Linked DNA regions of Homo sapiens. The protein of the gene in region 2 purifies or fractionates together with the protein of the main gene of each other region. This does not show direct contact. Each region holds a gene or a part of one and is shown on either strand. Other genes may lie near its edges. The genes, in order: PACSIN1, ABL2 and KRABD3.

Evidence for each region.
Region 1: the proteins of ABL2 (region 2) and PACSIN1 purify together in Homo sapiens (co-immunoprecipitation; one large-scale study listed by IntAct). This does not show direct contact.
Region 3: the proteins of ABL2 (region 2) and KRABD3 purify together in Homo sapiens (co-immunoprecipitation; one large-scale study listed by IntAct). This does not show direct contact.

What each region holds. Positions count from the first base shown.
Region 1 is NC_000006.12:34,464,747-34,468,875, reverse strand, and holds the start of PACSIN1 (protein kinase C and casein kinase substrate in neurons protein 1), read right to left. Parts: upstream 2,801-4,129; 5' UTR 2,606-2,800; intron 1-2,605. UniProt on the Homo sapiens protein: Plays a role in the reorganization of the microtubule cytoskeleton via its interaction with MAPT; this decreases microtubule stability and inhibits MAPT-induced microtubule polymerization.
Region 2 is NC_000001.11:179,219,609-179,223,324, forward strand, and holds part of ABL2 (tyrosine-protein kinase ABL2), read right to left. Parts: intron 1-3,716. UniProt on the Homo sapiens protein: Non-receptor tyrosine-protein kinase that plays an ABL1-overlapping role in key processes linked to cell growth and survival such as cytoskeleton remodeling in response to extracellular stimuli, cell motility and adhesion and receptor endocytosis.
Region 3 is NC_000007.14:149,728,310-149,732,025, reverse strand, and holds part of KRABD3 (protein KRBA1), read right to left. Parts: intron 3,504-3,716; coding exon 3,351-3,503; intron 2,839-3,350; coding exon 2,656-2,838; intron 2,539-2,655; coding exon of another isoform or gene 2,498-2,538; exon of another isoform or gene 2,275-2,497; intron 1,880-2,274; coding exon 1,685-1,879; intron 1,599-1,684; coding exon 1,458-1,598; exon of another isoform or gene 1,313-1,457; intron 355-1,312; coding exon 250-354; intron 1-249.

The DNA.
Region 1 (4,129 bases), on a different chromosome or scaffold from region 2:
TACTCTGTGCCAGGCCATGGGGCCACCGGAAACAGCACACAGACTCTGCCCCCACAGACCCCACAGCCCAGCAGGGAGAGGACACTGCATGATGGGAGGGTTCCCAGGGGAGGCAGCCAGGCTGTGGGGAGGGGATCATGGGTGGGGTTCCCAGCCCAAGCTGGGGAAGCTTCTGGAGGAAAAAGGAGTCTCAGTGGACTCCCGAGGGTGAGAGATTTGGGTGGGAAGGAAGAGGGAGAGGAGGAGACAGGAACAGCCTGTGCAAAGGCCTGCAGGTGACAGAAGCCCCACTTGCTTGAGGAACTGAAAGTAGCTCAGGGCAGCCAGGGGGCAGAGGGAGGGCAAGAAGGGAGAGTCAGCCTGGGTGTGGGAATGGTGGCAGAGCCACGTTAGGGAGACTGCATGGCTGTCAAATAGCAATGCGAGCCATTGTGGAATGAATGAATGATTGAATGACTGAATGTCAACTCTGGAAAATAGCTGGCAACCTGAGGGAGGGGGTTGAGTCCCTTCTTGGGCTTTCCCTCTATTCCCCAGGACCAAAGAGCCACCCAAACCAGACAGTTCTCTTTAGGCCCCTCCTAAGCCTGGAAATCTTGATGTCCTTCATAGACACAGGCCTGTGGCTAAGCCAGAACCCTTGTTGGCAGCCTCTTCCTCTGAAGTGGGTTTGCTCCTCCACACACTAGGGTCATGAGACCCCTGAGAGCTTGCTATGAAGACCTTAGAGGCTGAGGAAGGCCTGGCTTGGGCCTTCCCAGCTTCCCTGATGTTGACCTGGATTTTCCCAAGGGCTGGGACAGAGGCAGAGACTCTGGTCTAAAGTTGGCACCCCGGGAAGAAAGTGCCAACCCAGCGGCCTGAGGAGAGCCAGACCTTCACATCAGGCCTTCCCTCAAGCCAGGACCAGGCCTGGACACTCAAACCAGGGGCCCATAAGACCCTCTGGAGCCAGCAGGTTGCAACACTATCTCCAAAAGGCATAGCTGCCCATCAACTCCAGGCTTAGGAAGGGCCTAGCCGGGCATGATGGCTCAGGCCTGTAATCCTAGCACTTTGAGAGGCCAAGGTGGGCAGATCACCTGAGGTCAGGAGTTCGAGACCAGCCTGACCAACATGGAGAAACCCCGTCTCTACTAAAAATATAAAATTAGCCGGGTGTGGTGGTGCATGCCTGTAATTCCAGCTACTCAGGAGGCTGAGGCAGGAGAATCGCTTGAACCCGGGAGGCAGAGGTTGCGGTGAGCTGAGATCGTGCCATTGCACTCCAGCCTGGGCAACAAGAGCGAAACTCTCTCTCAAAAAAAAAAAAAAAAAAAAAAGGAAGGGCCTACTAAAGAGAACCACCTGGTTTGAGTGGAGTGGCTCTTTGGTCCTGGGGAATAGAGAGAAAGCCCAAGAAGGGGCTCGACCCCCTCCCTCAGGTTGCCAGCTATTTCCCAGAGTTTACATTCACTCATTCAATAAGTCATGCATTCCACAAGATATTTTCTTGGTGCCAAACCCTGCTTTGGTGCAGGGGCAATGACAGAGATGAATCAGATTCCCAGCCTGAAGGTACTTCTGGTCTAGAAGGAGATGAACAAGACAAATAACCCAGCCACAAGGCAGTCCAAGAACATAGGGCAGGGGGCAAGGATCTCACCTGGGGTATCAGGGAAGCTGCTGGAGGGTGATGATTTGGACTTGTGATAGAAAGGCCAGGATGGAGGATGGAAGCAAAATCACTGACAGACAGTCCTGTTTGCACCCCAGCTGTGCCAGGGGCTGGGGCAATGTGGGTTATTTATGGTTGTGCCTAGAAATAAGCGGCCATATGTGTCACTGCCTATGTGGTGCAGACCTGGGCTGTTGTGGGTAGGGGCAGCTGGGGCTTGAAGCTGGGTCTGGCCAAGCTCCCGGGTTTGCCACCATGTCTCCTACACCCTGATGACCCTTTAACCTTTTCATAGCCTCTTGTAAGGTGAAAATAAGGGGCAGAGGCAGCTCCAACAGGCAGCAAGTGGCCTGGGGCTTGCAGGGGAGGGCAGTGCCCAGCAGCCCATGGCTTCTGTATCTGCGGGGCCTTTTAGCATTATCGCCTCCTTCTTGCCTCCTCCCCCCTCCCCGCTCCCATCCCAGCTGTGGGGGAAGGGGTAGGGGACAGAAGGAAATACCTTTAACCATAAGCCAGACAGGCATCAGCTGCTGTGTTTCTCCCCAGCCCACTCTGATCCATAAATAGCCTATGCACCAAGCTGGCACCAGCCCACCCACCCCTTCTGGTAGCAGTCCAGAGACCCGGACCGCCCGGGCCCAGGCCCCAGCTTCCCAAGGAACCTATTTCCGGCGCTTTTCCTGGGGTAAGGGCCTCCGATGCCAGCTCGCTCCCCCAAGGGACCCAGCGCAGTGGCATCCTGGCACTGCCTGGGTGATGCCCGCGAACTCCGTCCCCTGAAGGCATCCCCGAACGCGCACCCGCTTCTCTCCAGGCAACTGCCCAACCCTGCCCGGGCTCTGGCCCAGGGAGATGTCAGTCCCGGCGCCCACTTCCAACACGCACTCCCTAACTGGACACCCGCACACACAACCCCCCCGCCCTCTATTCAAGGGCCAGACCTCCTACCTGGGGGCAGGAGCTCCGGGGACCATCGGCGGCGACTCGGGGCGAAGCGGGACGTCTGGGGCCCGGCCTCAAGCCCGGCCGACTTCCCGGGGGAGGAGGGGGCTGGCGCTGCCGCCGCCACCGCGTCGCTCTGGGATCTCGCCGGGGCTGCGGGAAGGAGGAAGGTCAGAGCTGAGGCGGAGAGGGGGGAAGGATGAGGAGGAGGCGTGCACCGAGCAGAGCAGATTAGAGAGGCATTTTTAGCGAGCCAATGGTAGCGCGGGCAGGGCGGCGCGGTGGCTGCGCAGGTGGACGCGCCGCGGCTGCCGGGGAGGCAGCAACCAGTTTGGCAGGCGCCGGGGGTGGCGGGTGGCGGGTGGCGGGTGGGGTCCGGCTCCCCGCTGCTTCAGCCGACCCCTGCCCCAGCAGTCTTGCCTGGCTCCCTCTTCTGGGGGCTGCCCGCGGCCCCGCGCGTGCCGGGAGCCCTCCGGTGCGCCCTCCTCCCCAGCCCTCCCAGCTGGCGCGCTCGGAGCCCGGGATGTTGCTCCCTGCCTCTCTCCCCATCTCCCCATCGCCTTGGCCTTTCCTCCTCTCCCGAGCCTCGGCGTCCCTTGGTGCGTGCGGGTGCCTGTGTGGTGGGTGTGTTGAAGACGTGCGTGTGAGCTGACTTGGGAGCGACACCCCCTGCACCACCGCCCCACTGATGCCCACCCCTGCCCGCAGCTTCTGCCCTGTGACCCCATGGGGCGGGATCGCTAACCCTCATGTCCTAGTTCCAGCAGGACCGGCTGTCGCCAAAGCAAACTCCAGGCCATGTCGTTGGAGCTCTCTAGGGGGCTTGGGGCCTAATAGGGGACCCTCAACGGCCTTCACTCTTCCGAACTTGAGCCCTGAATGCTGCCTGGAGCCTGGACGCTGCAGGGAGGAGCGGGGCACATACCTATTGAAGGCCTGTTCTGTATCAGGCACTGATGAGGGGCTGGGCTGCAGCAGAGGACAGAACAGACCAAAACTCTGCCATCTCATAGTTCACATGTGTGAGGGAAGATAGATACTCAATATCAGCAGCTAAGAGTGTTTTGTTTGGTTTTTGTTGTTGTTGTTTTGTTTTGTTTTGAGACGGAGTTTCGCTCTTGTTGCCCAGGCTGGAGTGCAATGGCACGATCTCGGCTCACCACAACCTCCGCCTCCCGGGTTCAAGCGATTCTCCTGCCTCAGCCTCCCGAGTAGCTGGGACTACAGGCGCGAGTCACCACACCCAACTAATTTTGTATTTTTAGTAGAGATGGGGTTTCTCCATGTTGGTCAGGCTGGTCTCGAACTCCCGCCCTCAGGTGATCTGCCCGCCTTGGCCTCCCAAAGTGCTGAGATTACAGGCGTGAACCACTGCGCCGGGCCAAGAGTGTATTTTAAAGTGGTATGCACAGAGTAGAAAAATAAAGCGGGAGCCAAGAGCGGTGGCTCACGCCTGTAATCCCAGCACTTTGGGAGGCCGAGGCGGGCGGAACACGAGGTCAGGAGATCGAGACCATCCTGGCTAAAACG
Region 2 (3,716 bases):
TACCCAGTCCCTAAGACAAAGACAAATGGTCTAGAGAGGATATCACTTACCTTACAAGGAAGGTAGACCTAAAGTGATTTCAGATTCTCCTGTGATTTCAGATCCCCAAAATTCCCTTACCTTTTACTGCTTTCTGAAAGTCCTCTAATAAGAGTAGCTTAATAAGAAGAGAAAATGAAGTAATAAATATAAATGCTAAGGCAATTCTACACTTTGGCATGCCATCACAATGATAACAATAGCAGTGCTTAGGTTTACAAAACATTTTCACATACAACTCATATAATCTTCACAATCATCTTGAGGTAAATAATGACAATAAAACTGATATTTATTGAGCACCACAGTGCCTGGCACTTAAGAGTCTCGTACAATTTTATCACTTAATTATTTCAACAACCTGTTGTGAGGGATAAACCATGTACCAATGTCAGACACAAAGCAAGATTTATATCCAATTATAACTGATTTTAAAACCCACATTCTCTAAATCTCCACATTATGGCAAGACTTGGAGACAAAACTATCAGTCCCAGCTCTATCATTTAACAGCTATGTAACCTCAAGAAGTCACTTAATTTTCTAAACTCTTCATCTACAAAATGGGAAGATTAATACCTGCTTCACCTATTTCAGAGTAGTTGTAAAGGTCAAGTGAGATGAAAGACATAAAAGGTCTTCTTCAAAAGCTCTAAAAACTACACAAACATTATCATTCCCTATTTTGAAAGAGACTGAAGTAAAGAGGAATAAAAACATACAATGGTGGGGAGATGCTGGTTTTTCTTGTTTGGTTTTTGTTTTCCGTTTAAAGCAGGTTGAGCACCAGCTGCCTGCCACTTGTGAGCTGGGTATGTGCCGCACAGGACAGTGCCTTGTTTAGGCGATGGTCACTTTGTCAGGAAAATCTACCAAGGAAGAAATTACCAAACCATGTCTTTTTTTCTGTTTATGGAGTAGTTCACAGCAAATCTTGAGTGTTTTGACTAAAGCATGGAATACAGAAAACAAACTTCAGCTAGTGCTTTAATCTCTGCTGAAATTCTACAGGTATGTGTTTTATAAGCAGTATATGGCAGGATTTTAAGCCAGTCTGAAAGTCTGGTTTTCAGTAGCATTATTTCTGACAGCTACATACTGCTGAATGTTCAACTGGTGAAACTGAAGGTCTTTTCACTCAGAAGAAATCAATCAAGAAGAACTTGCAGTTCGCAAGCTTCTGAGCTGCTGTGGATGGCCCTGGCTCTCCAGACTGCCCTTCCCACTGAGATCTCTCACATGGGGTCTCCTGCTGCTGCCACTCCTGACTCTCCTCCTGATGTGGTACCTCTCAGCCTTCCCCACTACAATGTGACAGAATATGTAGACTGGATGTACTTTTACAAGTATGAGCCAATTTACAGATGAGGCTTTCACTTCACATTTTGAGAGCATTCAAACTGCTCTGATCAAAATCCAATTCTGGTTATCCTAGTGACCTCCCACCCCTCAGATGTGAAAGCCAGACAGGCCATTAGAGTTACTTGGGGTGAAAAAAGTCTTGATGGCGATATGAGGTTCTCACATTTTTCTTAGTAGGCCAACGGGCTAAAAGAGAAGACAAACTGTTAGCACTGTCCTCGGACGATTAACATCTTCTTTATAGTGATGTAATCCAACGAGATTTTTTAGACACATACAAAAACCTGACCTTGAAAACTGGCCAGGCACAGTGGCTCACATTTGTAGTCCCAGCACGTTGGGAGGTCAAGGCAGGTGAATTACTTGAGGCCAGGAGTTTGAGACCAGCCAGGCCAATATGGTGAAAACCCATCTGTACTGAAAATACAAAAATTAGCCAGGCATGGTGACGTGTGCCTGTAATCCCAGCTACTTGGGAGGCTGAGGCACAAGAATTGCTTGAGCCCAGGAGGTGGAGGCTGCAGTGAGCCAAGATCGCACCACTGCACTCCAGCCTGGGTGACAGAGCAAGACTCCGTCTCAAACAAACAACAAAAACAACCTATTATGGCATTCAGGTGGGTAACTGAGTTTTGCCCCATTGCCAACTACATCATGACAACAGACACTTATGTGTTCATCAATACTGGCAATTTAGTGTAGTATCTTTTAAACTTAAACCACTCAGAGAAGTTTTTCACAGGTTATCCCCTAATTGATAATTATTCCCATAGAGGATTTTACCAAAAAAAAAAAAAAACGTATTTCATACCAGGAGTGTCCTTTCAAGGTGTTTCCTCCCTACTGCAGTGGGTTGGGTTATACAATGCCCAAAGATTTGGTGCCAAGGATCCATGAAATGATGGGTCACGTAAAACCCATGATGTTTATGTCAGGATCTGTTTGAATTTATTAAAAGTGGACATTCATATTCCAGAAGACACGAATCTTTTCTTTCTATATAGAATCCATTCAGATGTCTGTCAATTTGGATGTGTGATTGCAGCCCACGGCTTTTCTTCCAAGGAGATGATCACTTTTTAGCAGATTATGCTATGGAACATCACATGCCATTAACTTCGCATTCTATGAAAAGCCTAGAAGAACAGGATACTCTGCGGAAAGTGTTAAAGTTCCTACTGTGAAAAGTTCATGGAGAGGTCAGTGTACTGGCTTACACTTAACTTTTTTTTCTTTTGAGACAGAGTCTTCGCCCTGTCCCTCAGGCTGGAGTGCAGTGGCGTGATCTCAGCTCACTGCAACCTCCGCCTCCTAGGTTCAAGTGATTCTACAGCCTCAGCCTCCTGAGTAGCTGGGATTACAGGTGCCCGCCACCATGCCTGGCTAATTTTTTTTTTTGAGACAGGGTTTTGCTCCTGTTGCCCAGGGTGGAGTACAGTAGCACGATCTCGGCTCACTGCAACCTCTGCCTCCCAGGATCAAGCGATTCTCCTGCCTCAGCCTCTTGAGTAGGTGGGATTATAGGTGCGCGCCACCATGCCCAGCTAATTTTTGTATTTTTAGCAGAGACAGGGTTTCACCATGTTGGCCAGGATGGTCTCGATCTCCTGATCTCGTCATCCACCCACCTCGGCCTCCCAAAGTACTGGGATTACCAGCATGAGCCACCGCGCCTGGCCTGAAACTCACCAGGAACCCACAAACTGGTTACACCTTATGATTTATTTTGACAAAAATCATGTCAGATCCTTTAAAGATGATATTCAGAGGAATATATTTAAAATACCTTTAAAATAACAACAACAACAAAAAAAAAACAGGCCGGGCACAGTGGCTCACGCCTGTAATCCTAACACTTTGAGAGGCTGAGGTGGGCGGATCATTTGAGGCCAGGAGTTCGAGACAAGTGTGACCAACATGGTGAATCCCCATCTCTACTAAAATACAAAAATTAGCCAGGTGTGGTGGCAGCCGCCTGTAATCCCAGCTACTCGGGAGGCTGAGGCAGGTGAATTGCTTGAACCCAGGAGGAGGAGGTTGCAGTGAGCCAAGATCGCGCCACTGCACTCCAGGCTGGGAGACAGAGCAAGGCTCCCTCTCAAAAAAAAAAAAAAAAAAAAAAGTCCAGATGCAGGGCCTCATGTCTGTAATCCCAGCACTTTGGGAGGCCAAGGTGGGAGAATCACTTGAGCCTAGGAATTTAAGACCAGCCTGGCCCAGTACAGCAAGACCCCATCTCTACAGAAAAATTTAAAAATTAGCCAGGCATGGTAGCACGCACCTATAGTCCCAGCTACCCAGAAGGCTGAGTCAGG
Region 3 (3,716 bases), on a different chromosome or scaffold from region 2:
AAGTCCCCTCAAGCCCCAAACTTTGATCCTTCACTTCTCAATTTCCACCTCTAAAAGGTGTGTCTGCTTTTATGAAAATCCCAACTGCTTCTGTGATAAAACACTGAAAGGAAATATGCAACCTGAAGTGCATTACAGGTGAGACTTCCTACCCATCACTCAAACACTGACCCTGGAAGGCTGTTTTCCCCAAGCTGGGGCTCTGGGTCCTGGCCCGTGCAGAGGGAATGGGGGAAGCCACCAGTTCACCTGCAACTCTGGGTCTTCCATGTCCAAGCTCCAGGCCTCTGGATGCTTCACTAACCCTGGGCCTTTTCTCCAGCTGAGAAACCGGGCAGGGATCCTGAGCTGTACCTATAGAAAGAGCACAGAGACCTTGGGGCAGGGAGACGATCGTTTGGCCAGAGCCATTCTGACATACCCTAAAACAATATCAAACTCTCAACTTTTAAACAATGATTAAATGAGATAGAAGACGGAAACTTGGCCCATGAGGGAGCCTAATTCTGGTGGCAGGGCCCGCCGCGGTGCGTGTGTGTGTGGTGTTCCTGCCCTGTATGCAGGGGGCTCCGGCAGGAGGAGGCGGCTGGGGAGGCAGCTGGGAAAAAGGACTCTCATCTGCGGGTCCTGCCCCAGTGAGACTTCCAAGGGCGTGCTGGGGCATCCTGTGGTCCACACCCAGCCCACTCTGCCATTTTCCACTAGGCCCACTGCGGAGTGAAGAATGTGGTGCAGCCTGGGTCTACACAGACCAGGGCCAATGCCTGTAAATGGAGCCAGCTGCAGGAGTTGGGGAGAGCTCCCTCCCCTGACCATTTCTGGCCTCTTCCTCCTTCTCCCCTGCTTCTCCCTCCTTCTACCACTGCTTCTCCCTCCTCGTCCTCGTCCTCCAGCACTCCTGAGGGGGCCAGGACAGCAGGTACTCTCTAAACTCTCTTTTCTCCCAGGCAACTGGGACCTGTCTCCTGTCCCATCTGCTTTTTCTGCTAGGAGCAAACAGTGGGTCACAGTGAGATTGAGAAGCAAGGTGGCCTGGGGCAATAGGCAGCATTCTAGCTTTCCTAATGGGACACTCTCCAAGAAGTACCCCCAGCTGGGGAAATCTCACTTTTGAGACTTTTGTTATTGATTGCCAAGTTTTAAAAGCATACGCTATTATTGTATAAATACATCCACATCTGTCTACATGCACACGTGTATATTAGCAAGCGCAAACACCGTGTACGTGGCATCAAGTGAGTGGCTCAGACCTCCCTGCAGCTGCTCACCAGCACCCCCAGCAGCCCCGCCCTCCTTCTCGGACACAGCTCACCTTACAGGGAACTAAAGCACGGCCAATGTGCAGGACTCCCTGGCAAGAGCCAGGCAAAGCGACAGGCAGGACTCAAAGGATCCAGTCTGGACTCCTGGTCCTCTGGGGAACGCATGGGCGCCCCCTCAGGAGACCCCAGGCTCACCTGCACCGAGGCCGCTGCAGTACCTGGGCTCTGTTCTCCTGGGGTCTTCACCAGGGCTGCCGCCACTGCTGCCAGCAGGGGTCCCACCAGGACATGGGGACAGAGGGACAGGAGGCTTACAGCTGGGAAGGCGGTCCCTCTCTAACGTCACAAACAAAGCTGGCATCAGAGTGGTGACTGGCGCCCTGGCACACATCCCGCTATCCTCCCTCTCCGCACAGGCTCACCCTGGGGGAGCGGCTTCCAGAGATCAGGCTCTGGCCTCGGGTCTTCTCCTTCAGAGCCGCTGAAGCTCGAGCTGGAGCCGGGGCTGGGGCTGGGGCTGGGGCCTCCCACGCAGGCGAAGCGCAAGGGCCTTACAGGCAAGATCCCCCTCAGGGCGCTCTCCAGGCAGTGCAGCGGGGAGGGCTTGGGGGCAGACCCTGGGCAGGGGACCAGAGAGTGCTCTGTCATCAGCCTGAAGAGAGCCAGGTCTCTGCCTTAGTGTCTGGGCACACAGAACCGGTCCCCTTTTCAGCTCAGCCCACGATCAGCATGCGTTCTAGTGGACCCTAAATGGCTGCCTCTCTTGCCAGAGAAAGAGGACAAAAGTGAAGCCAGAGCCTGGCCAGGACCCCAGCAGCTTTGGAAAGTCTGCTGGGGAACTTTCTGGAAGTCTCCAGTCCTTGGAAGCCATTAGCAGTCAGGTTCTAGCCAGGCCTAGGTCTCACAGGCCAGGCGGCTTCTCCCACCAGGCAGGTGCCATCCCTGCACCCCAGTATCTCACAGGGGCCAGCAGCCCAAGGGTGGGGCTCAGTTAGGGCCCATCCTCGTCTGATGGGAGGGTCAGCAAAACCGCATTTATTCAGCAAAGGCATCCCAGCAGGCCCTGCAGCAGATCTAGGAAGGAATTCTGCTGGAAGTTAAACCAAGCAGCAGCAGTGGACGGCGGGAGCCCCCTCAAGAAGCTTCTCCACTGGAGAAACCCAATGGATGGACACAAACAATGATCTTCCCGACCCCGCTCCTTGTCAGCACTTTGTGACACTTTATCTTCTTGTTTAGCGAACCTCAGTTTCTGTTTGGCACCAGCTTCTGTCCTCTGGGGAAAGGATGAGAGATGGGGAAGAAACAGAGGGACAGAGAGGGAAGTCTATTTCCTTGTCAAACACTTTAACTGAAGTGGGGCTGTCAGTACCGAGGGCAGGTGCCAGCTCACCCTCTGGGAGCCACCTCCACACTCCTGGCCTGGTGGCCCCAGGGTCTTTGAACCCCCGCTGGTGGCAGGCGGGGACGCAGCTGGAGGTGAACACCTGTGGGCTGACCAGATGGAGGCTCCGGGTGGGCGCTTCTCCCCTACCCTGCCCGAGACGGGCTGACTCGCAGGCCTCAGCCCTCAGTCCTGTTTTAATGAGAAATCAGAAGGCCTGTCAGCCCCACGGGGCCTCGTGCTGCCACAGAAGAAGGGACAGGGAACAGTTTCTGCCATTGCTGGGCTCTCAGGCACACCAGCATCAGGTGTGGGAAACACCCATCTGTCATGTTCCAGGGAGCGCCTGAACCCTCCAGAACATCTCTATTCCCAGACCCAGCTGCGTGGACCCCTGGGCTTGGAGACTGGTGCCCAGACACCAAGGCTCGTGGGGCTGGCACGGCCGGGACAAGGACACCCAGCCACAAGGAGCCAGCTCCAGCTGGGATGGTGGAACCGCAGACAGTGGCACTAAGGTGCCAGCAGGTCTACACGTGTGTGCTGCAGACTATCTGGCTTTCTGGCCTCCAACAAGGCTCTGCCCAGGTCTGTTTCCAGAGCACCATGTTGGCTCAGGAGCAGATCTGAGCCCACAGGTGCAGCGCCTAGGGCATCCTCAGAGCAGCCCTGTCTACACCCAGGGCCCCGGCAGCCACTATTACCTTCCTTGTCTGCTGTCCAGTTCCTGGGCTCTGCTCTCCTCGGTCCCCTGTCTGCTGCTGAGGAGCAGGGCCAGGCAGGCCGCAGCACAGGCACAGGTATCTCCTTGAGACAATTCTCCAGACCCTGCAGTGGGGAGCTTCCTGGTGGGCTTCCTGTGAAGATCAAACATTCACAGATGAGGGGGACTGTAGCTCAATCTCTGCAAACTGCAGAAGCCCCCTGTCTTCTGCTGTGTCCAGGGAAGGGGGGTCACAGGGGTGCTGGGCACAGAGCACTGGACGTGTCAGTCCTGGCTCTGGCGCGGCCCTGCTTTGGCTGCCGTGGAAGAAGCCTGGCCTGTCCTGGCCACCCACATAGAAGCCTGG